Linked DNA regions of Homo sapiens: region 2 is linked to region 1. The links come from fine-mapping of genetic effects on gene expression. A gene starts in region 1. The other region holds a variant in brackets. All regions are shown on one strand. Distances are from middle to middle. Region 1 holds the start of TMEM86A (transmembrane protein 86A). Region 2 holds the start of IGSF22 (immunoglobulin superfamily member 22).

Region 1 (15,973 bases):
TGGGCCATTGGTCAACTATTTGGCTGGCACCGTTTTTTAATCTGACTGCCAACAGGTGGTGCAAACATTCTTAATTGGCCACAGTTCTTACCACTCTCCCATCCTTTCGATGTCATTTGTTATATGCCTGGCCCCTGCAGACATGAGAGTTCTCAATCCCTAGATAAGATGTGGTTTGCAACTCTTGGTGAGCCTAGACCTGCCTTCAGAAAAAAGATACTGGTGATCAGGACTCAACCAGACTCACCAATCACGATCTCTCTGGCACGGTTCTGGAAATAACCTATATGTTTACAAAATTTTGCGGGTGATTCTGATGTGCAATAAAAATTAAAACTGGTCTAGGATAAGGACCGGTGGGGGGCACAAACAAGGGAAGGAGCGAAGGGAACCCTCCCTTTTGTACATGCATGCCATGTTTCTACTCATGTGTGCACACATAGGGGGAAGCATTTTATTCCTTCCCAGTCTACTGTCTTCATAGCCACACAGCTAGCAGCATGAACTCTAAATGCAAAGCTGGCCTGCCTTGCTTTCTGTTGCTTAAATTTCCCCCAGCTTTCCTCTCATGGTAAAATCCCAAACCAAGAAGGTTTCCCCCTCCCCCACCTCTCATCTCACCTTCTGCTACTCCTGAACCTTCCATGACACTCCATTGCTGTGGTCTCCATGGTTACAGACCTTTTTTATCCAGTTATAGATACCTTTCTTTGGGGAAAGGACCTTGTCCTGTTGCTCTGTCTCTCGAGTGCTTAGCTAAGTGTCTGGCACTGAGACAATATCTCCAGAGAGGCTGCTGAGCTGTGTAAAAGAACTAGGCCAGGGAAGGCACTGTGGGTGCTATCCAGCTTTCATTCCACAGCTAAAGAGATCCCTGATAACTCAAATCTGCTTGTAAGCACAGCAAATGGGCCCAGGGCCCTGGCTCTGCCACTGACCAGCCATGTGACCTTAGTAAGCTACCTCATTGAGCCTGTTTTCTCATCTTCTTTATAGGACTATGAGGCTTAAATGAGACAGTACACAACTGCCTGGCACAATGTCTGGCAAATATTAAGTGCTAGATAAATGGCAGCTCTTGCCCCTTCACACTCTGCCAACCCAAGATTAAGGGTCCCAGGGTCCAGCTCCTGGTTTCCTGCATAGGAAGTCCAGCAGTTTGGAATTTCCCTGGTCGCCAGCATCATTAATATAACGAATACTTCCTTTGCTCTTTCAGACAAAGATGATAAGTCAGTTGTAGCATCCATCACCGAGAGTCTGCAGAAGAAATCAAAGCACCTCATGTGAGCTCCAGCCAAGCCCAGGCATCAGGAGGCTGTTATGATGTGGAGTTTCTTGGCCTGTCCTCTGCATGGCCCAGTGTAGGAAGCCCAGTTTGCTCTCTGGTGTTTGTTAATGTAAACATTCAGTGAAGGGATGGGGCAATAAACGTAACTCATCCTTTCCCGTTCCTGAGGGTGATATACAGCAGGGACCAAGGGGATGGATGTGATTGCATGATAGGGAATCCCAGACCTGGACCCCTGAAAGCCTAGTCCAAACCCACCCACAAGGCAGTGACCAGCCTTCTTGTGACTGGGCCTGGTCTTCCCTTCCCCTCCTCCACATCTACATGGCACTTTCCCCCTCCCCTCAGAGCTTGGGGGCAAGTCCTGCTGACTTCATCCTGCTCTCCATCCTGCTCCCTCCCATTTCTTCACACTAGGTAGGTCTGTGTTCAGAGTTCTGAAGTTTGAAAGGATCAAGATCTTCCCTCTTTAGTGTCCAGGGTTCAGAGCTAGAAGGGATTGATCATCCAGCTCACTAAGTTTCAAACTTACGTTTTTCAGTGGAATCCTTCCAAAACAAAACAAAACAAAAAAAAACACAACCTAAGAAGCTACTGGACTTGAAATAAGGATAGGAGGTCTTTGAGCCTGCCTTCTCTCATTATTCCTTCACTACCCCCTTACCAGGAATCTCTGTAAAAACTAATTTGGAAATCACTGACTCATCCAACCACCCCTGAGACTTGAGTCTCCTAAATCACATCCCCACAAATGAGCAACACCTCTACTGATGGCATATCCACCACCACCCAAGGCTTCCCTTTCTACTTCTGGGTTAGGGCATTGTCTGTTAAGTTACAAATGCTCCTGGAGCAGAGTGATGTATTATTCTGCCAGGGCTTTACAACTAATGAATGAATCAGCCAATCTAATCCCATTGCTCCCAGCTGTTCAACTAAGCCCAGAGTCCAGGATGAGGGAGATGCTTGAAGGGAATCTGGATCATTTTGAAGGAAGCAGCAGGTCTCAAGTGGGGAGGGGAGGAGGTGGGCAGCAATAGATGACACTGGGTAACTAAAGGTCACCAAGGGTGCTGGGCACCTGTGCACAGGGGAGTACATCAAGGACAAATTTGGACAGTGGCAAATACCACTCATCCCCCATCCTCCTAAACCACATCCTCACCCACACCAGGGAAGTGAGACACACTCCAACCGGCACAGTGTCACCAGAGCCAGGTAGCCAGCCTGGCACCAAGATGCACTGCCCAGGACTGTGACTAGGCTGTGAGGACAGCCAGAGCCTCTGGCACCATGCCCCCATGCCCTCTCCAAGATAGGCATGTGCCACACAGGCCCACAAGCAGGGCAGCCAATGGCTCTTGATTTTTATTATTTTTCACATGGGCAGCAGAAGATGGAGTTGTCCCATCCTTGCTCCCCTTGCATTGAATGTGCCTTGGGTCTTAAAACCCCGGAGTGTCATTGGAGCCCCCTCCTCTTGCTCCTAGTGTAGGAGGGACAAGGAGGAAAGCACTGTGAGTATGTGTGTTGGAGGGGAGGGGTCCCAGCTCCCTGAGCCAGGCTCAGCACCCCTCAGCAGCTCCCTGAGGCCCTCTCTCTGTGAGACTTTTGACAGACAGCAGGACAGAAACATATAGCAGAGAAAGACATAGGCAGACTAGGAGACAGGCTACACACACACACAGAGAAGCTGGCCCCTTCCTTTGGCATGGTTCACCCTAGCCCTGGGGATAGGATCTAAGGGTAGCGTATGGGACCTGAGCTTTGGGCTTGCCCGAGAGAGAGATGGGGCTACTTGAATTCTTGAGACCCCAAACTCCGAGACCAAAGAAGTTCTCTCTCCTGCCTAACCTGGACCCACACCTCTTCATGTCCCCACCCACCACTTAGAGACTGAGATTGTTCAAGTAACAAGGATAGAAGAGGGAAAAGAAACGGAGGCTCCACTCTCATCCAGTCTTCCCAACTAGGGGCCTGTGAAAGGGGCTCCTGGGTCTGAGTCTTCTCAGCACAGATTCTCCCGTTTCCCTCAACTTTGTGCAGATGAAAAAGGGGAGGAGTGGGTGAACCCAGCACTGCCATTGGTCCTAGGCATAACACATGGAGTCAGACTCTTCCACCTGGTAGGGGAAGTGGGTGGGGGGGTGTCAAGAAGCTGAGCACCATCACCTTCCAGGGGGGTTTTGAAAGTCCTGATAGGGTAGAGGTGGGGAGATGTCTACTTCTGGCTCCAGTCTGATATTAGGCTGGCTCTTTTAGCTCTCAGCATTGTCCTGAACCACGAGTTCTGCTAGGGAGATCCTTTTCCAGCCTCCCCACACGAACTTGCAAATTCCTCAGGCAGTACCTGCTGCCCCAGGCTGGCACTGCAGCCATCCTGATCCAGCTCCTGCAGGTCCCCAGGATCTGGGCCCCAGCCCCAGGAGGAGAGAGGGGTGACCAGACCCTGGCACCTCAGTTGGCCTTGGTCAGTCTGTAGTGTTCCACAGGCTCCCGGCTTTCGACAGCTGACAAGGCGACGAGCATCTGGGCCACATAGTAGGTGGACATGATAAGCGCCCGAGAGTAGGGCACAGGAAAACAGAATTTGTTGAGGGCGATGGTCAGGTCTGAGATGATAAAGAAGAGTGCACCACTGCCAGCTGCCAGCTCTGTCCAGCGCCAGTCTGCCCCGGCCAGCCGCAGCCCTGCCATAGCTCGCCAGCCCATGAAGCCGATAAGGGCCACATAGACCCCCACCAGGTAGGTGAAGGCACCTGAGAGGCATGGGTAGAGGAGGGCATAGCACAGGCCCGACAGCGCTGCCATCACCAGACCTGTCCGAAGAGCCAGTGGCTGCATGCCAAAGGCCGAGGCGTAGAACATGTGGGTCACAGCAAACATCAGCAGACCTGGGGGTAAGAGGGGCAAAGGCAGCTGAGGGCAAGCTTGATGAAGAATGAGTAACAGGGTGGGGGTAGGGATGGATGTGGCGATGGAGTGGAGTGTTTGGGATAACCCAGCAGCTTTGCTTTGGGATAACAGGGGTAGGAAGATCTAAAGTTAAAGACCACCACCCCAGTCCCCTGAAGGACTCTGGAACTGATCACTAGTTCCCCTGCGAGGTCATCCCCTAACAAGGACCCTCACAGTCCCTGGCCTCAGAAACCCTCAGGCTCCCCACACTCTGGTTCAAGAACTCCCTCTTCCAAATCTTTGCCCACAGCCCAGGACCCTCTATCCCCCAGCCCCAGGACTCCTCCCAGGCAACTACTATGGCCACTGACCATGCACGAAGTATCCTTGGTCCTGCCAGATGAGGAAGGCGTCACCTACAGCAGAGAAGACAAGCCCCACAAAGATGCGGGTGGCGCTGGGGTGGGCCAGCAGGAATCCCAGGCCATGGGCCAGAAGGAAGAGCCAGAGGCAGAAGATAGGCAGGCACTTGATGAGGGTGCTGACCCACGATGGGCTAGATGAGGGCAGCCAGAGCACAAAATACACGCAGGTGGCCTTGAAGAACGGCACCAGTTTGGGTCCTTCACTCTTCACCTGGAGGACACAGGACAAGGGCAGCACTCAGAACTTGGGGGTTGAAAGCCAGCACCCTCAGCCTAGGCATCCACCCCAGAGACACTCCCATCCATACCCCCACCTCACTTCCACCCCCAACCTGAGAAGACTGACACAGAGAAACCCAGCCTGGCCTGCCTCTACCAGCCAGCAGGTTGTGGCCAAACCCATTACTGCCCTGAGGCTCAGTATATTAGGAGGGGCACCCTTCTGCAGCCTAGTGTGCTTCTCCCTTCCTGCCCCCTCCTTCTCCCTCCTCAGGGCCCCTTTAGCCCCTCCTCTCTGCCAGCAACAGCCCCCAGCTGTTCACTCTGGAATGGAGTGAAGTCAGTGGGAAACCACAGAGACACCCTGACTGGCCAACTCGTGATCCTCAGCATGGGGCCAGGGTGCAGCCTTAGGGCCCTGGCAACACCAGGTGTGTGCCAGGAATGTGGGAAAGCAGGCAATGGCAATCACCTCAGCCACCACAGCCTCTCTCCTCCTCAACCAGTCTGTTCCTCAGCCTCCACTCCACCTGCCCCAGCCTGAAGGTGGCATCAAGGGCAAGGAGGGCTATGCTAGGGATGCTGGCTAGATAAATGGACCCATGAGTTGGGAGCAAGAAAATTGTCCTTCAAACACCAAAGATTTCAAGGATTGGGGGAAGGGAGGGTGTGTGTCAGTCAGCCTCATTTCCCAGAGAACAAGAGCAACTCAAGCCACACCAGAAAGAGGCAGGAAAGGGGGGAGAGGTTCTATTCCCAGCTTCTGATCTGGAGCCAGCAGACAGGCTGGGAGATGGGGAACTGAGAGGGGGAAGTTAGAGCAGCTGACTTGGTCTCAGCCGGATTAGCAGAGGGCAGCTAAAGAAAGGTTGTACCCAAGGCCACTGCAGGCAGAGTCCAAGCTGGGGGAGGGGGCTGCAGCGATGTTCTGAATCTGTGATCCTTGAAACTCCTTTCCTTGGGCTGCTAACAGATCCATTGAGGGTGATATGGAGCAGCTGGAGTTCCCTGTACACCCACACTCTGCCCAAAGCGATTGTGTCTCTGGCTAGGTGAGCTGCCCAGCACAGGACTTGGGAAACACTCAGAGTCCAGACGACCAGGTACCTAAGGACTGATCAGACTGTGATGAGGAGGATTGGGAAGAGGCGGATGGGTGGTTCCAGGGTCCAAGCCTTTCCTTGTTCTGCCAGAGGTAAGAGCAGTGAGAAGAGATGACTTCCACTTCCCATGGAAATTAAGGCTGGTCAGGGTAGGGGCATGGTCAGAGGAGGCGGCTGGAGGGGATGCCCAGGCCCACAATGCCCAGCAACCACCTGCCAGCCCCTGGGAGCATTAACCTCCGCTCCATGGCCTCTCCCAGCCCCATATTTTCTAGAAGGAGATACTGGCAGTAGCTGGAGAGACCCTGACAGTTATAGGGAACCCAGTAGTAGAATAAGGAGGATGGGGAGACGAAACAAAAGGTTCAAGTTGAGAAAGTCTGAAAAGCAGGGGATGTCATAGAGAATGCCCCCTTTTCCCCCAGCGCGTTATCAGCGCTTCTTAGACTCAGGGGCGTCCGCCAACTTGTTTACAAAATGAGGAAGGTTAGGAAACAAACTTGGGACGGCATTCCCAGGAGGTCCCTGTTATCCTCCCAGCATCCCCCGCCCCCACGCCTCCCTGTGGTCCGCCTACGCGGAACTCTGCGGCCGGCAGCGGTCCCCTCCCTCTCCCGGGCCGCGACCCCGCCGACCCGCGCCAAATACATGGAGATCAACAAAGTCACGCTTCCGAGTCACGTGGCCAGTGTTTTCCTCCCTCCGCGGGCGGGCTGGGGGCGCGCGAGGAGGGGCGCCGCGAGTCTGAGGAGCGGGGGGCGGTGACAGCGCCCGCCTCCCGCCGCGGGACTCCGGCCGCCACGGGACCCCCGCCCCGCCTCGGCCCCTTCGGCAGCTCGGCCTGCCGAAGTCCGGTGGCCAGGCCGGTGGGCTCCAGCCGCGCCGGGCACTGGCTCGCTCGCTCGCTCACTCACCACAGTGACCGGGGACACCATGGCGGCGGCGGCGGCGGCTGGCACCCTGCTCCGGGCTGCAGCGGCCAGGACGCGCCCACGGCCAGGTAAGCCGGCGACGATTCTACAAAGCCCGGAGGGACGGACAATACCTCCCGAGCGCCCGGCGCCGGGGTTCTGTCAGCTAGCCCCGTGACGTCACCGCTGCCAGGGCCAATGAGCGGGCGGGAGCCGGGGGGGCGGGGCCCGGCTGGCGGCGCCGGCCAGGCCCCCGGCTGCTGCTCGGAGAAAGGAGGCATCTCCCAGGGGTCAGAAGGCGGATACCCCCCAGGCCCCGCCCCCTTGGGAGGCCGTGCCAAGGCGTCCACGGAACGTGAACGTGACCGTGACCCCGGTGCCTGGGTGAGGACTGAGCTTGGCTGAGAGACAAACACATTGCTGTCCTGGACGCACAGCCACATACATTTTCTCATAACCCGGGAGCAAAAGGCAAAGACAGATTCCCTTAAGCCTTTAAACATGCAGTCCACGCCGATACGATTGCAATTGGACTCACAACCTTCACTGTGTACAAACACACATCCAAATCATCAGCAAACACACAACCTTCGACTTGAAAAGCGGCACGTATATAGGTATGCAGCAGCCATGGACCCATAATCGTAGCATATACATCACACATACAGAATCATAATTACCCTTAAGCACTCAACAAGTACACAGATCCAAAACCAACAACCACAAATTGACATATATGCTCCATGTAAGAAAAGAGACATATACAGGGACTCTACAGCAGCTCGTAGACCCATGACCCTAATATAGAAACAAACACAGATAATTGGCCGTAGGCACACACCTCTTACAACTCAGAGACCACTGCCACACATACAAGAGCACCCCAAGAATGACAGACAGGCAGACCCAAAGAAGCGTGAGCTAACTTTGCCAAAAATACGTCCCAAGTGGATTTAATGTTGATTTTACGTAGACTAAAGGAACACAAGCTCATTCAGAGCGGTGCATGTTCAGAATCATTGGAATTACATGGAGAGGTAGGTGGCCAGATGGACTGAAATCTAGTCCCAGTTTTGCCACTTCCATGCTGTTAGATTGGGTGAATCACTTCCCCTCTCTGGTCTTGATTTCCTCACTTAGAAGATGAGCGGGTGAGTTCTAAGGTTCCACCCAACTCTGACATGTGTAGGTTGGGGAAGAGGAAGGGCTGCTGGTTTTAGGAAATTTAAGTCTAGCAATCCTGGAGATGGAGATTTCAGCTGTATCTCAAAGGATGGGCAAGTAGTCTGTAAGCTACTGTAGAAGGGCAGTAGCTGTGTGTCAGGCTTTGGGAATTGATGGGAAAGGGGTGACCAGCCCTAATTAGCAGCCAAAAAGGAGTTTCAAACATCCTGGCATGGTGACACAGGCCCTTGTGCTGGTCCTGAGCCTTGTGCTGTTTGGGCAGAGACCGACAGGCTGAAGTCTCCTGTAAGCCCCTCCCACAATGGGTCTCTTCCTTTTCCTTCTGGATCCTACCCAGTTTTCCCTAAAGTCCCAACACCCATTCAGAGGGGTGATAGTCCTCTTCTGGTGACAGAATTGGCAACCAGAGATTCAGAGTCCAGTACAACAAGAGTGAGAGTCAAGGCTTGGGACAGGAGTCACCCAGATCTTCCCCCCATCCCCTCCAGTCCCCTCCAGCATAGAGTTCTAAGGGTCAATGACCTCTGCCTACTCCTCTTTCTTTCCAGTTAGGGGCTTTGGGGAGAGCACCTTACCAGAATGAAGGACTATAACTGCTGCCCCAGGGCTTTGTCACTCACACACACACACACACACATTTCTACCAAGTGTGCTGCCTAGAGAGAACACTGGCTTGAGAGTTAGAAATGCCATTCTTAGTCCTAGTGCTTCCTTCTCCATGACTCACTACTGTGGTGTATAATTGAGCACATCATTCCATCTTTGGAGCTTCAGATTTCTCATGAATAAAATGGAGGAAATGGGCTAGTAGAAGGTGCAAATATTCCAGTTTTCCAGCCAAACCCTCTAACATCACCTGAGGGATAGTTCTCAAACAGAAATTTGCCAAGTCAGGGCATTTTTCATTTCTCTAGACCTTAGTTTGCCTCTCTATAAAAATGAGAAGGTGGACTATATCCGTGGTTCTCAACAAGTGGTACCTATCAAAATTACTTGGAAAGCTTTTAAAAACATAGATGCCGTTGCCCCACCCAAGACCTACTAATTAGTGGCACCAGTTCTAAGAAGCTTGCACATACAAATACCTAACAATACAAAACATGAGACTTAGAACTCCCATCTACAGGGTTCCACTCAGTGCTTGATTACCCAGTAGGCAAACTAATCATATACACAAGTCGCCTACAAAGCAGAGGCATCCCCCCTCAATGCCGGTTTTTCTCCATTTGCCTTCCCACCACCTAGATTCATTCTTGGCTCTTCTCTACCCTGTCCTGGGAGCCTGAGCTCTATGGACTGTATCTTCAGGGATCACCAGGGCCCTGGCTTCTGGCTGAGTTCAGCCAATGAAATTCAGAGGCAGGAGATGAGAACATGGACGAGGCCTGATGGACCAGGCTGAGATTCTGGCTGTGGCCTGCTTCTCCATGGCTACAGCCCCAGGCTCCCTCCCCATACCTTCAGGCCAGGGGTGGCAACAGTTTCCTGCTGTTGCTAGTCTTTTTTTTTTTTTTTTTTTTTTGAGACAGGGTCTTGCTCTGTCCCCCAGGCTGCCATGCAGTGGTGTGATCTATGCTCACTGCAACCTCTGCCTCCTGGGTTCAAGCGATTCTCCTGCCTCAGCTTCCCTGGTAGCTGGGATTACAGGTATGTGCCACCACGCCCGGCTAATTTTGTATTTTTAGTAGAGATGGGGTTTTACCATGTTGGTCAGGCTGCTCTCGAACTCCTGACCTCAGGTGATCCACCCGCCTCGGCCTCCCAAAGTGCTGGGATTACAGGCATGAGCTACTGTGCCCAGTGCTATTGCTAGTCTTTAGGTGCCTCCTCACCCATGGCTAGTTTCGTCTCTGCAAATAGTCATTAAATTCTCTTCAGTTAAATTATTGAGTGTGCCAGTACCCTGGCTGATATAGGCACCCACAAAGCAAGGGCACCACCCTCTTCCCAAAGAGAAAGAGCTTATTCTGACTTCATTCATATGGTTGAGATTTGTTGTTTCAAAAGTAAATTTTCATTTACTATTTACTAGTGTTTACTATTTACTAGTGTTTTTATTTTGAATTGCATATTGCAGGAGGCAGAAAGTGGGATAAGGCTTCCTGAAAATGGGCATTTCTCCCTTTTGGTAGGAACTGGCATTTCTTCCTTTCCAACCTATTGGCATGGCCCTTTTCACACAGCTTTGTAATTTTCCCTGTGCTTGTGAGCCCATTCACTCACTCATTCATCCAACAAATGTTTACAGTGCACCTAATATGTGCTAACCACTGTATTAGGTTCTGGGGTGTAAAATATTGAGTAAAATATATTCTCTATCCTTATGGAGCTCACAGTTCATTTCAGACAGGCAAGTAAACAATTATTCAATGTGGTAGCTGACCTAATGAAGTATGAAGGTGTCACAGGTGGCATTAAAAAAAGACATCAGAATTATAAATTACACCTGGAGCAATTGCAGGAGCTAGAGTTAAATCTAGAAGAACGAGTTAGTCTTTATTGAGCAGACACCAATGTATATGCCATTCTAGGCAGAGGGAATTGCATGTGTACATAAGAGCACAAGAGACACACTGAATTCAGGGAAATATCTGTAGTACTGATTCGAGCTGGGGAGTGAGAAGGTGAAACTGAAGAAGCATGAGCCAACTCAGATCTTGAAGATTCTACTCAGCCAGGCGCGGTGGCTCATGCCTGTAATCCCAGCACTTTCAGAGGCCAAGGTGGGCAGATCACCTGAGGTCAGGAGTTCAAGACCAGCCTGGCCAACATGATGAAACCCCGTCTCTACTAAAAATAAAAAAAATTAGCTGGGTGTGGTGGTGGGCACCTTCAATCCCAGCTACTTGGAGAATCGCTTGAACCCAAGAGGCAGAGGTCGCAGTGAACCGAGATTGTGCCACTGCACTCCAGCCTGGGCAACAAGAGCAAGACTCTGTCTCAAAATAAATAGATAAATAAAAATAAAAATGAAGGTTCTACTAAGAAGTTTAGACTTGACATAGTAGATGACACTAAACCAATTGTCCTCTGTTCCTTAGCATCTCTAATTGTGCCCGCTGTCATCCACCAGCGACATGGGCAATGCACAGAAATGATGACCCATCATCATTCTGAGCTTGCCTCGCTTCCCCCATGGGGCTTCTTCTCACCCAGTGGCCTCCTTCATCTCTGACCTCTGTTGTTTTGCCACAGGATATTTTTCCTCACTTAGTTTGTCCTGCTTGAAATCATAATCCAGCCCTAAACTGATTATCTTATTCCCAACCTGATGCTGGATCTCAGCTAATTTCTTTTCTGTTTCAGGCCTCCAGAGCACTTTTTTTTTTTTTTTTTTTTGAGACAGAGTCTCGCTCTGTCGCCCAAGCTAGAGTGCAGTGACGCAATCTCAGCTCACTGCAAGCCCCGCCTCTCCAGTTCACGCCATTCTGCTGCCTCAGCCTCCCGAGTAGCTGAGACTACAGGCGCCCACCACCACATCCAGCTAACTTTTTGTATTTTTAGTAGAGATGGGGTTTCACCATGTTAGCCAGGATGGTCTCGATCTCCTGATCTCATGATCCGCCCGCTTCGGCCTCCCAAAGTGCTGGGATTACAGGTGTGAGCCACTGCACCCAGCCTCCAGAGCACTTTTAACCAACTCTCAGGGTCACCACACATACCCGATTCCACCCCCACCCCACCTGCAGATATGTCGAAGAAATCAGAGATGTTAAGGAGGGTGTGACAAGGTCAGATGTTCTGATAACAGTGTGAGGGCGTCAGTTGTTGAGTTGTAAGGAGTGAGCTGAATGTGTGTGTCAGCCTAGTGGAGAATGTTTGGGTGGAACTGGATACAAAACTAGGGCTCAGGCTCACAGGGAAGATTTGGAAGTCTCAACCATACTGAAAGTCTATGGATGTGATGAACCAGAGAGGAGCCTTGAGGGAGTAGAGAAGAGGACTAGAACAAGCACTTTGGGGACAAACATTTAAGAGAATGGTGGAAAAAAGGAAAAGAAGGAAGAAGACAAACACACAGATAAATAGATATGCTGAGAATGTATCTGGCACACCCAGATATACCTAGTTCCAAGTATACTCACAGGGAAAGAGACAGACACACCCAGAGAAGTGTATGTTCACAGATGATCTGTGGGTTTTGTGGTTTCGTTCCCTGCCTCTGGAACAGGTGGCAGGTGCTGGTTCTGCTTCCCCATTGTGGTGGGCCAGAAGCTTTGAAGATAAATGACCATGACCCATCACCATTACTGACTGTGTGCCCCATGGCCCACGGTCTGTGGGAGGCTCCACATACCCAACCCCAGCCCAGGCATTCCTCCAGGTCCCTTCTGCCCTTTCTGCTTACAGTTATCAGCAGCCTAGAATCCATTCTAGAAGGCCTCTGTCATGCTGGAGCCCGCTTGGGTCAGGGAGGTGAACCCTGGAGTGGCCAACGTGGTCAGTGACACAGAGTCCGCTCCTGGAGGCACTTAAGAAAAGGACAAAGATTTTAGCAGAACTTCTCTTCCAGACCCTTGGTGAGGGTTAAATATTGATGCTGTCCTGAGATAATATGTGGAGCAGTGTCCCTAAGGACATTCCGGGCTATCCGGTTAGCCTCTGGGCTTGGGGCCAGGCAAACATGGGTTTAAGGCTCTTCATCTACCGTGTGGCTTTGGCAAATTGTTTAACCCTCTGAGTTTCAATTTCCTTTTCTATAAAATAGCAAACCTGGAAGGGGTGGCGTGAAAGGAAGTTTGCTGATGCATCTACCATATCCAGCATAGCCCCTTACCCACAAGATACTTACTCTTCTTTCCTTTCCTTGGCGTATTTGTTACTGGAAAGGGATCCTGATCCAGACCCCCAAAAAGGGTTCATGGACCTCATGGAAGAAAGAATTCTGGGCGAGTCCATAGAATAAAGTGAAAGCAAGTTTATTAAGAAAGTAAAGGAATAGACCAAGCATGGGATTACATGCCTGTAATCCCAGCACTTTGGGAGGCCAAGGCAGGCAGATCCCTTGAGGTCGGGAGTTGGATACTAGCCTGGCCAACATGGTGAAACCACGTCTCTACTAAAAATACGAAAAATTAGCCGGGCTTGGTGGTGCATGCCTACAGTCCCAGCTACTTGGGAGGCTGAGGCAGGAGAATCACTTGAACCTTGGAGGCAGAGATTGCAGTGAGCTAAGCTCAGACTACTGCACTCCAGCCAGGGCAACAAAATGAGACTTCATCTCAAAAAAATAAATAAATAAATAAATAAATAAAAATAAAAATAAAAATAAAAAACCCGGGCGCGATGGCTCACCCCTGTAATCCTAGCACTTTGGGAGGCCAAGGCGGGCGGATCACGAGGTCAGGAGATCAAGACCATTCTGGCTAACATGGTGAAACCCCGTCTCTTCTAAAAGTACAAAAATTAGCCGGCCGTGATGGCACACGCCTGTAGTCCCAGCTACTCAGGAGGCTGAGGCAGGAGAATCGCTTGAACCAGGGGGGCAGAGGTTGCAATGAGCAGAGATCCCGCCACTGCACTCCAGCTTGGGTGACAGCGAGACTCCGTCTCAAAAAAAAAAAAAGAAAAAGAAAAAGAAAGTAAAGGAATAAAAGAATGGCTACCCCATAGGCAGAGCAGTGACAGGGGCTGCTCAACTGAGTATACTCATAGTTATTTATTGATTACATGTTAAACAAGGGAGGAATTATTCATGGGTTTTCTGGGAAAGTGGCAGGCACTTCCCAGAACTAAGGGTTCCTCCCCCTTTTAGACCATATAGAGTAACTTCCTGACATTGCTATGGCATTTATTTGTAAACTGTCATGGCCCTGGTGGGAATGTCTTTTAGCATGCTAATGTATTATAATTAGCATATAATGAGCATTGAGGACAACCAGAGATCACTTCTGTTGCCCTCTTGGTTTCAGTGGGTTTTGGCTTTCTTCTTTACTGCATCGTGTTTTATCAGCAGCGTCTTTGTGACCTGTATCTTGTGATACCAGTCCTGTCAACATCCTATCCCATCTTGTGACTAAGAATGTCTGACCTCCTGGGAATGCAGCCCAGTAGGTCTCAGCCTTATTTTACCCAGTCCATAATCAAGATGGAGTCACTCTGGTGTTGTTTTTTTTGTTTTTGTTTTTGTATTTTTTTGAGACAGAGTCTCGCTCTTGTCGCCCAGGCTGGAGTGCAGTGGCACAATCTTGGCTCACTACAACCTCTGCCTCCTGGGCTCAAGTGATTCTCCTGCCTCAGCCTCCTGAGTAGCTGGGATTACAAGCATCTACCACAACGCCCAGCTAATTTTTGTATTTTTAGTAGAGATGGGGTTTCACCATGTTGACCAGGCTAGTTTCAAACTCCTGACCTCAAGTGATCCACCTGCCTCGGCCTCCCAAAGTGCTGTGATTACAAGCGTGAGCCACTGTGCCCAGCCTGAGTCACTCTGGTTCTAATACCTGACATATTTCTCCCCTCCCCTTTATAAGTGGACCCTTAATTCTAAGGGTTGTAGAGGGACAAAAATCCATCTTTTGCAGCTTCTTCAGGCTGAATAAGGGTGACGATATTCCTGCCTTTCTATTAGGATCTTTTGTATCCAGGGTAGAGAGGAGCTCAGTCAGAAAGCACTGGTATGCTGAGGGCCATTCATAACTCTGAGTTCCGACAAAAGGTGAAATCTAGAAGATTAATAAGTATTCAATTTAAGAAAATGTTGACTAAGCTTATCCTGCATTCCTACACAAGGAGTACAACAGCAATATATTCCACAATAGTAAAGCAAAATAAGTAAAACTATCCCAAGTAAACTAAATAAGAAGGCTTTCCATGAACTGGGCAACTGTTGGAACCAAGCTGATATGGAGTTGCTAGCTAATTCTAATCAGAATTAGATTCATGCCAGAATTAGATCCAAAGATTGACATTACCCATCCCTCTTATTTCTTTTTTTTTTTTTTTTTTTTTTGAGATGGACTCTCACTCTGTCACCCAGGCTGGAGTACAATGGCACAATCTCGGCTCACTGCAACCTCCGCTTCCCAGGTTCAAGTGATTCTCCTGCCTCAGCCTCCTGAGTAGCTGGGACTACAGGTGCGGGCCACCACACCTGGCTAATTTTTGTGTTTTTCGTAGAGACGGGGTTTCACTATGTTGGCCAGGCTAGTCTCGAACTCCTAAACTCGTGGTCCGCCCGCCTCGGCCTCCCAAAGTGCTGGGATTACAGGCGTGAGCCACTGCACCCAGACCCCTCTTGTTTCTTCTGAGCTGCAGTCAGAGATCACTGGTTGGTTCACAGGAATAAGCAGGGTCAGTCTAAATTGCAGAAAACACTCAAAAACAACTGATGAGATGAGAATTTAATAACAGGTGTACTGGCCAGGTGTAGTGGCTCATGCCTGTAATCCCAGAACTTTGGGAGGATGAGGCAGGTGGATCACAAGGTCAAGAGATAGAGACCATCCTGGCCAACATGGTGAAACCCCATCTCTACTAAAAATACAAAAATTAGCTGGGCGTGGTGGCACGCACCTGTAGTCCCAGCTACTCTGGAGGCTGAGGCAGGAGAATTGCTTGAACTCGGGAGGCGGAGGTTGCAGTGAGCTGAGACTGCACCACTTTACTCCAGCCTGGCGACAGAGCAAAACTCCATCTCAAAAATAAATAAATAAAAATAACAGGTGTACCACAGTTGTGGAAACATATTTTTTTCTTTCTCTAGTCTCCTATTTTTATTAAAAACAAATCATAATGGGACCAATTTCCTTGTATATACTTGGCCTGATTATTTGCATAAAGCACAGCCAGAATAATTATTTGCCACATAGGCTCTTTTTTTTTTTTTTTTTTTTTTTTTTTTTTTTTTTGAGGCAGAGTCTTGCTCCGTCCCTCAGGCTGGAGTGCAGTGGCACGATCTCAGCTCACTGCAAGCTCCGCCTCCCAGGTTCATGCCATTCT
Region 2 (9,751 bases), 27 kb before region 1:
GCAGGAGGGGCCCCACTGTGCCCCCATCATCGTCCACTGCAGGTGGGTCCTCCCAGCCAGCCACTGGAGCGGGGCAGCCCCCCACCCGCTGGGCTGCCCTGCCCCTCACCCCACCGGTCCCCTCGGCCCTCAGTGCAGGGATTGGGAGGACCGGCTGCTTCATTGCCACCAGCATCTGCTGCCAGCAGCTGCGGCAGGAGGGTGTGGTGGACATCCTGAAGACCACGTGCCAGCTCCGTCAGGACAGGTCAGCCCACGGGCGGGAGTGGGGACACACAAGGGAGCTAGAGCCCCGAGCGGGTAGAGGGAGAGACCCACATGTGCATGGGCGGGGGGTGAGGGGCAGATGGAAAACACTGGCACGGACTGATGGGCAGACAAGGAGTAGCGAGGACAGCTGGGTAGAGGGGCAGGATCCAGACAGTGGGGGGCCAGATGAAGAGGGAAGAAAAGCAGAGCTGGTGGATAAAAGGACAGAGGCCGAAAGTGGTAGGACATGTCATCTGTGTCCCTGATAGGAAGGGGCAGAGGGTAATGGTTGGCAAGGGTTGGTCTCTCCAAGACGCACAGGGGCAAGGCCTGGCAAGTGATTGCTACTCCATGGCTTTTGGGGCACCTCCCACAGCCCATCCCTCCACGACCCTGCCCCCACTGTGCATCTCTGCCGGGCAGGGGCGGCATGATCCAGACATGCGAGCAGTACCAGTTTGTGCACCACGTCATGAGCCTCTACGAAAAGCAGCTGTCCCACCAGTCCCCAGAATGACTGCGCTTCTCCTACAAGGTTCTCTGGGCACTGCCCAGCCTGAGTCTCGGCCCTCACCCAGGGCCCTGCCTCGGGTCCTGGGCCTGCTCCCCGCTTCCTCCCCTTCAGTCAGCTCCCTCTGTCCTCTGTCAGCCTGGCCTGACCCCTACCCTCCAGCATTGCTCTTCCTACTGTACATATTGGGGAGTGGGGGGCAGGGTCGGGAAGGGACATGCCAGGCCAGGCCTGGGGCCCCGGGGCCTGACCCACACCACGCAGACCCCGGGCTCCAGTTTTTAACGATGGTTCCATCAATACCTGATCCAGAATGTTTCCGTGCTACACTTTGTGTCCTGCTGCAATGTGTTCTGTCTGTCCATCCATCTCTGCCCTCTGTACCGGACACTGTGTCTCCTCAGCCAGGAAGGGGTAATGAGCTCCAGCCCCTAAGCAACCGGACTTGCCTGCCTCGGCCTCACCCGCACTTCTCCCAAAAGGCAGATGACGGGGAGTTAGGCATGGGGAGCTCCAGAAGGTCACCAGAGAGCTTTCAGCTGAGGGAGAGTTCTCTAGGTTGGAGTGGGCATCACAGCCAGGGTGGCCTCTGGGTGTCAGATGCTCTCAGGAGGGTGCCCAGCCTGTGAGGCACTGGCAAGGTAGGGGGCAGATGGGGCATGGAGAACCCAGAGGATCTAGGCCCTGTTGGGGAGGGGAGGGGAGCTCAAGGTTTGGGTGGGGACTCAGCCCAGATCTACGTGAGACATTTTTCTGTGTCACTGTGGGAAAGCCTTCCCAGAAGTCTCACTGCGTGTTGCTCTGCGTGTGTTCCCATGTCCATGCGTGTGTTGAGAGCCCATCAGGAGGGCATGCATGACTCTTTGGCAACATGTATTATCTTGGAGCCACGTGTTTTTATTGCTGACTTTAAATATTTATCCCACGGCAGACAGAGACATTTGGTGTCTTTTTATAATTCGCTCGTGGTCATTGAATAGAGCAATAAACGGAGCATTTTGAGCAAAACTAACCTCCTGGGTCTGTGTGATTTGCCTCTCCCCTCCACTGCCTTCCTTCCTGTACTTGGGTCTTTGTGCCCCTCCCCAGCATGAGCACAGTGAGCTTGGCCCTTCTGCTCACTGGAGCCCCTTGTGGAGACTGGGAGTATGGAGCGAGTCCAAATTTGTAAAGCCAAACTGGGAACATTCTGCAGGATTCTCACACAGCCTCAGCCCTGGCCCTGACACATGCTCTGGGCCATGGGGAGCCTCAAGGACAGGTGTGGAAGGCTTCCAGGGAAGGCACAGTGGCTGGCAGGTCACCATTTCCAACAGATGTGCCAGAGAAGCCAAGGCTAGGGTAAGGAGACATTCAGGTCACACCCAGGCCCCTCCCTGTTGGCCAAACTCTTATCCCATGTTAGCTCCACAGATCCCAACAGCAGCTGCAGCCCAGTAATTTCCCTTGTAAGGCCTGGGCTCAGAGTAGCTCCTCCCAAGGGGCCCAGGGAATCTGCATGTGGGCTGAGATCCTGAGCCATCCTGGACACTCCTGCTCTATTCTTGTCCCCTGCCCCCCTGGGATGGAGCAAAAGTAGCCATGATGCCACTGCTGGCAGGTGGGGGTCACCCCAGGGCAGAAGGAGGGGTCCAGGGCAAGGGTGCTGACCAACAAGTCCTTACAAGGTGCCAGAACCTTGGGTGGGATCCAGGGTCCAGGCATGCGGGGTGTGCTACAGATGATGAGAAAACAACAGGGTGGGCTGGACACGGTGGCTCACGCCTGTAATCCCAGCACATTGGGAGGCCGAGGGGTGGCAGATCATGAGGTCAGGAGTTCGAGACCAGCCTGACCAACATGGTGAAACCCCATCTCTACTAAAAATACAAAAATTAGCCGGGCGTAGCGGTGCACGCCTGTAATCCCAGATACTCAGGAGGCTGAGGCAGGAGAATCGCTTGAACCTGGGAGGCAGAGGTTGCAGTGAGCCAAGATCGTGCCACTGCATCCAGTCTGGGTGACAGAGACTCCATCTCAAAAAAAAGAAAAGAAAAGAAAACAACAGGTGGCTGAAGCAGCCCAGATGGAAGTCCTTGAGAAGAGGTGGCCATACTCTCCAGTCACCCTCAAGCAGAGACCTCCCCACAACCCCCGGAGGATGGGCCCTCCTACTCTTCTACCCAGATTAGGGAGATTGGGCTGTTGAAGTGGGAAGAGGAAGGAGACCTAACATTTCCCTGTTCTTCCCCAGGGTGGCCTTGTAAAGATACTCAGGCTGTGTATGAACCACACATAGGAGTGCAACATGAATGGGAACCCCTGGATTTGTGTAGCAACGCAGCAGATCCCAGAGGCCCTCCCCAGTTCACCGTGTCCCAGTCCCTGGAAAATACAGACCTGTTGCTTTGCTCCCTGAGCCCTGCTGGACTATGCATGCACCTGTACCTGAGTGTGTGCCTGTGCACACACACTACCCTGAGCCCCTCAGCTCAGAGAGGTCCTACCCAGCAGCAGTGAGAGCCAAAACCTGTACCACAAGGGAACAAAAAAAGTACCCCTGGACTGCCACCCTCAGCCTCCTTCCCGCCTGGCCTTCAGTGTTTCCCCCAGCCTGGATCCAGCTTTGCTTCCCGCCTCCCTTCTCCACCGCCCTCCCCCTCCCCCCACAACCAAGCAGTGTGCCATCTAGCTGAGACAGCTGCAGAGCCTGACTAAGGAATCGCCCCCAGGGGGCCAGACATTTAAGGAACAGATGACACTGGTAGCCTCACTGTTGGGGCAAAGGAAGAAGGAGACGGGCCACCCTACAGTCCAGGCACTAGCTGAGCCTCCAAAGCCGTGGACACAGCATTCGAGTGTTGGGAGGGACTGGTCAGTGCTGAAGGTAAGGCTCCCCTCCTCCCTCAGGAAGGGGACAAAGCTGACCACCTTCTGAGCCCAGAGGGGACTATAGGGTAGAGGGCAGGAATAGGAACAGGGGAGTAGTCTCAGAACCCAAAGGTAGAAGCAGCCCAGGCAGAGATATATTAGGGGGTGGAGAGAGGGAATAGAGTTTAACCCCTAACTACCTGGGTTAAAGAAGGCTTTGGAGCCCTCTGGGACGCCACTGGACTGGAGTCAAAAGCTAGGAGTCTAGTCTGAGTGACCTTGGACAGGTCATTTCTTTCAGACATCAGTTTCCTCATATACGAAATAGGACTTTAAAAACTGCAATGCTGGGCCAGGCGCGGTGGCTCACGCCTGTAATCCTAGCACTTTGGGAGGCTGAGGTGGGCGGATCACGAGGTCAGGTATTCGAGACTAGCCTGGCCAACATAGTGAAACGCCATCTGTACTAAAAATACAAAAAATTAGCCGGGTGTGATGGCGGGTGCCTGTAGTCCCAGCTACTCGGGAGCCTGAGGCAGGAGAATTGCTTGAACCTGGGAGGCAGAGGTTGTCGTGGGCCAAGATCGTGCCACTGCACTCCAGCCTGGGCAACAGAGCAAGACTCTGTCTCAAAAAAACAAAAACAAAAAAACTGCAATGCTGGCCACATGCAGTGGCTCACACCTATAATCCCAGCACTTTGGGAGGCCAAGGCAGGCGGATCAATCGAGGCTAGGAGTTTGAGACCAGCCTGGCCAACAAGATGAAACCCTGTCTCTACTGAAAACACAAAAATTAGCTGGGCATGGTGGCACGTGCCTGTAAACCCAGCTGCTGGGGAGGCTGAGGCAGGAGAATGGCTTGAATTCGAGAGGAGGAGGTTGCAATGAGCCGAGATCACCCAAAAAAAACCGCAATGCTGGTTAAATAAAACATTGAGAAAACATGGTGCTCTGAACAGGAATGAGGAAACGCTATCATCTGGTATGGAAAAAATCTCCAAGACACATTAAATGAAAAAAGAAAGGGTCAGAATAGTGTGTATAATGGGCTACCTTATGTGCTTTTTTAATTAAAAAAAAAAAAGGAAGATGATAAGAACACATGAGTTTTCCTATTTGCATGATGGAGGTCTAGAAGGAGCCTAGAGACTGGCTACCTGTTGCAATGGGGAAGGTTGTAAGATAGACGCAGGAGTGGGAGGGAGCCTGTCCATATGGATTTTTATATTGTTTTATTCTTTAACTATGTGATTGAATTACCAGTTCAAAGAAAAATGTAAGAAAAACTAAACCTTTGCCTTTACCATGTCGCAAACACAAGCAGAATTGTAGTGATGTTTTGTCATCTGTTTTAGCATTCCACCAGTGCCGGGGTCCCCAGGGCCCAGGAATAAGAGACACAGCTTCCTTCTAAAGCCCACTCCAGTATGGCTTAGTCAGGAAGTTCTTTCTTAGGTCTGACTGCATTCCCTCCTGATGAAACATCCAGCACTGCCTCCTTAGTGCCATGTAGCTATCAATAGGTATCCTCAACTCCCTCCAGGCCTTACTTGGTTGGCTGGGTAAGTCTAAGCCCTATAACCTCTCCCTCTGAGACCCTGGAATAGTTTGGAGTTACTCAGTGAGAGGACAGGCCTATTGGGTCTGGTAACTAACCAGGAAAAGGAAGCTAGGAAATGAAGAAAAGAGAGCTCGACTGCTCTCCTGGCCCTCTCCTGTGTGCTTCCATCTCCTCTTATGTCTGAACACACACATAACATCTCTGAATCTCCCTCCTACTCCCTGTCTTGTCCTTCATGGCCTCATCCTCTTCCCCAGTCTCACAGGTGAGTGCCCACGCCTGCTGTCACCATGACAACCATTCACAGCCGGCAGATGCTGCAGGAGCACGTGTCCATGGAGTTCTCCAGCTCCACCACCCACGTGCAGACCTTCTCCCAGACAACCAAGATCGTGGGAGGCAAGTGGAATGGGGGCAGGGAAGGGATCGGGAAGGGCAGCTATTCTTCCTCCACACCCATCCCTTGGGTGGCCCCAGTTTTGCCACTAATGGGCCCCTCTGGAGCCCACAATACCAACAGCAACCCCCACCCAACGTGTGCTTCTAATCTTGGCTTTGTTAAAGCTTCAGCCAGCTGGATGTTCAACACAGATCAGATCTCCAGGAAAACAGCTTAGAAAAGATCAATCATGTGGATGTGTGTGAATGATTGATAAACTCTTAATTGCTGAAGGAGATCAGAGCCATAGGTGAACAGATTCTATCTCCAAAGGTAGAATTTCAGGCATAGGGGAAATTAGGAAGGTAGCCACCTTATCTACATATCAGTAATGCTGACCCTGCTCCACTTAAGAAATAGGAGACTTGGGGCTACCAGTGGAGAAAGAAGGTGAACACATAAACAAGAAGGTGACCTTACCTTCCAGGCTTTTAGCCCTCTGGGGCCAGACTTGGAAGAGGGCAGATCCAAGGGAAAGCTGAGAAATGGTCTCAGAGCTGAACAGAGTGTTTTAGTCACGTCTCTAGTGGAAAGAGATTAAAAGATGGCCGGGGGCCAAGACATTGGATACCCCTTCTCACAGTCATTGCCCCTCCCTCAAAGCCTCAAAGGGATAGAGTCCCTCAAAGTCCTCCGTGCACAGAGGTCAAGGCCAGATAAACACTCTATACCAACCAACACCTCCTGGCCAGTGAGGCAGAGCAAGTGGAACAGCTGGGACTCAAGGCCTATGGTCTAGACCAGAAGTTCCAAACTCAAGTGATTTACAGCAGTGATTCTCTGCTGTGGCCGCACATCAGAGTCACCTTAGTGCAGGGGGTGTGAGGAGGGCAAAAATATGGCAGTACCTGAGTCTCACCCCAGACCATTCAATCAGGTATTTCTTATAAAGTTCTCCATGGATTATATATGTGCAGCCAAAGCTGTAGACCACTGACCAACAGGGCCCAGGCAGGGAACATAAATGTGGGGAAAAGACTGGGGTAAACTAGAGACTGTATATCCCATCTAAAGGGGCAGCCACTATTCACCTCCCACTGACTGTTGCCATATGGGAATACAGGTTCAGTGTTGAGAATCCAGAAATCTGAATTTTTATGTGAAATCTTTCTCTTTCAGATGTAGGGCT[A/G]CTTTTTTGTTTAAACATTGTGGAGGTCACATAAAAGACATCTGCAGGCCAGGTGTCCACTGCACTCTGCCTGTTTGAGACCTCTTGTTAGTATTTAAAAGCAGGCCATGAGAGCTTCTTAACACACTTTTCCCCCTCTGTCAGATTAGTGGGATAATAAAGGCACCTACTTCAGTGGGATGCTGTGAAGATGGAATAAAATCATCTCTGATATGTGCCTAGCACAGTTCCTGACTCAAGGAAAGTGTTCCATGATTCAGAGCAATTGTTGTGAATTGATAACTCACCAGCCAAGAAGATTGTCTGTAGTTTTATACTGCAAAAACAGTTTTTTTTGTTTTCCAAATATAAAATTATATTTCCACATTGAAGATGTGCTTTCAGATAAGGATATTCCCATATATAGCTCCACTGGAGTGGGACTGTGTCGTGTCCTGTCCCTCACTCAAGAATCACTACTCCCAAGGCAATGAATGCTGAACCCACAGAATGGCAGGGAGAAAATCTAGAGCAGAGCTCAGCCAAGCTGCAGACCTCCCAGGCAGAAGCAGGCCTAGCCCCTCTTAATGCTACTGGGGGACCAGGACTTCCAGGAGAGAAGCCTAAGAGACCAAGAAAATTCCAAAAGAGAAGCCTCCTTTAAAAAAAAAAATTAGGACTCAGGGCTGTGGCCCCATAAAGGTAATGGACCACTGAGGTGTGGGAAAGGAGTTCGCCTCCCCTAGTGGTTGAAACTTGCCATAACACAATGGCCCATCGACTCACCCTGCTTTCTCCCCATGTAGCTGGTCCTGCTCCCACTTCCCTAAATGCTCTTTGTTCCCATGCTCCACCGTCCTCTCAAGAAAGCTCTGTCCTCCCATCGCGAGCTGGGCTTCTACCTGGAGCCCATTCTGACCTCTCGCCTGCCCCCACAGAGGAGGTCGTGAGGAGGAAGTCCTCGAGCATAGTGGAGTTCTTCAGCTTAGTGACCCGGAGCTCAAACATCCCTGCGGGCGACAGCGTCCCTGAGTTCGTGGAGAAGCCTCAACCGGTCACCGCGCCCGAGGGTGTGTTGCTGCCTGTGGCTCACCGGGCTCCAGTGCTTCGCTTTCTAATCGAGTGCCCCCACCCTCCGTCCTACCCCAACGACCTCCAATGCTAAACCCTGGCAGAGCCTGGCCGAGGGTTCCTCCCCTGCCCGGGGCCAGGCCCAGGTGTCTGGGAGGAGGCAGAGAGCCGGCAGAGGGTGGCAGAGGCTCTAGCCTGGTGGCTAAGAGGCGAAAACGCGTCCTGTGCTCATCGCAGGGGACAAAGCCGTGTTCCGAGCCCGGGTGCAGGGGAACGCCAAACCCCACATCTCCTGGAAGAGGGAGAGCGGCATCCCCATCAAGGAGTCCGCCAAGATATTCTACGACAGCATTAACAAGGAACACGTGCTGAAGGTGCGGGGGCCAAGCCCAAGTCCAGTTACCGAGAAGGCCAGAGGCAGGGACCCCCAGGGCGGGCCGCCAGTCTTCTCACCGATGAGAGCCTTAACGGCGGCCCGAGAGCCGGGCAGTGGGAAAAGCAGCTGTCATTGCCCGAGAGGCGCGGCAGGATAAGAGAGGCCGAGTCAGGAACCGGGATATTGCCGGAATGAGCAGAGGACCCAAAGTACCCCCGGGGCAGAGCAGAGCAGGGGCAGAGCCAGAACGTGGCGGGGCGGGACGCAATGGAAGCGAAGGGGCGTGTCCACAAGGCGAGTGAGCCAAAAGGAACGCGGGACCAAGACGGTGGGCGTAGCCATGGAGGGCGGGACCATTGTGGGTGGCGAGGTGCCGGAGGGACTCGCCGTAGAGTAGGGGTGAGGGTCAGGGGCTCCGGGCTCTTCAGCTGAACCCTCCCCAAGGACCGACCATCCTTAGGTCTAACCAGCTTCTGGATCACTTTCTGAGAGCTGGGCCTACCCAGCTGTAACCCCTGGCTCCAGGCCCTTCGAGGAAAGGGAGGGATGGATCACGGGGAGATCTAGGCCTATAATTACTTATGATCCTATAATCACTCGGGTCCTGACCCGATTTCCCGTTGTGAAAGGCAAAGAGCCTCCTTTTTTCCCCACAGACAGAAGTAGTCTGCTCCCAAAGACCCATCATCACTGGACCCTAAGCCCCCCACAGCACACACGAGCTGCCCCAGTCCCCCTGATGGCCACCTCTTACACAAGCTCATTCATTCAGCAGACACTTTCTGAGAGCCTTGGCTTCTGAGAGCCTAGCAGGCTTCTGCAAGCACCATGCAGACGGGCATCAAGTCAGCCTTACTCACCACTGTTCCTTCTGGGGCTCAGCCCAGTGTCTGGTACAGAGGAGTAAATTGTATTAAATGAAGTCTCAGCCAGATGATGCCAGAAACTGCAGATAGAGTTACAAGGCAGGGGAAGCCCTGCCTTCTGGGAGCTCACAGCCAAGGGGGAGAGTCCGATGGAGAAGCAGACAGTTTTATTGCTATGGAATCAGGCTACAAACATGCATACTCACACTGACTGCTAGCTGGTACCTCCAAATCATACAGGCTGCTCAATCCTCCACACATATACCCAACAGTCAGTTCCTATTGTCCCCTAAAAAAAAAAAAGGCCTCCTACCTTATCTGACAGAAAGTCTCCCTGTGGTTCCTTTTCCTTCCCCCACTAATGGCCGGACTTTGATCCAGCTGGAGCCACTGACTTCGGATGACTCTGACAACTATAAGTGCATTGCAAGCAATGACCATGCAGATGCCATCTATACCGTATCTCTGCTGGTAACAGAAGGTGAGTTGGCCCCTTCCTCTTGGCCTTTCTTCTTAGGGACCAGACTCCCCCTGTCTGAACCTGTCCCTCTGTCTATCCTCAGGTCAAGAGAAAATGGACTTCAAAAAGATGCTGAAGAAGAGGTGAGGCTGGCAGGTCCTTCTGCCCAAGATATTGTCTCCTCATCCAGGCCAAAGCCTCTCAAAGGCCTCTCAACAAGGCCCTGAGTTCCAAGAATCCATGGAGTAGGGAGGGGTT

What was found.
Region 2: its variant is fine-mapped to the expression of TMEM86A in whole blood (INTERVAL, PIP above 0.99).

Annotation. Positions count from the first base shown.
Region 1 is chr11:18,689,785-18,705,757 of GRCh38, reverse strand. TMEM86A (transmembrane protein 86A) reads right to left here and starts at 6,979. Exons shown (of 3, transcript NM_153347.3): 1 at 6,851-6,979; 2 at 4,561-4,825; 3 at 973-4,185. The coding sequence starts at 6,871. The coding sequence ends at 3,749. It overlaps IGSF22 (immunoglobulin superfamily member 22), which reads left to right. Exons shown (of 23, transcript NM_173588.4): 23 at 1,220-1,446. The coding sequence ends at 1,290. RefSeq lists a silencer at 6,868-7,177 and an enhancer at 6,771-7,272.
Region 2 is chr11:18,719,949-18,729,699 of GRCh38, reverse strand. It overlaps IGSF22 (immunoglobulin superfamily member 22), which reads left to right and starts at 3,512. Exons shown (of 23, transcript NM_173588.4): 1 at 3,512-3,626; 2 at 5,431-5,572; 3 at 7,659-7,790; 4 at 8,029-8,165; 5 at 9,415-9,514; 6 at 9,597-9,636. The coding sequence starts at 5,464. PTPN5 (protein tyrosine phosphatase non-receptor type 5) reads left to right here. Exons shown (of 15, transcript NM_006906.2): 13 at 1-42; 14 at 134-247; 15 at 673-1,772. The coding sequence ends at 766. The region is part of intron 2 of IGSF22-AS1 (IGSF22 antisense RNA 1); the gene reads right to left. RefSeq lists an enhancer at 7,880-8,069. The variant A/G (reference allele first, on the strand shown) is at 6,742.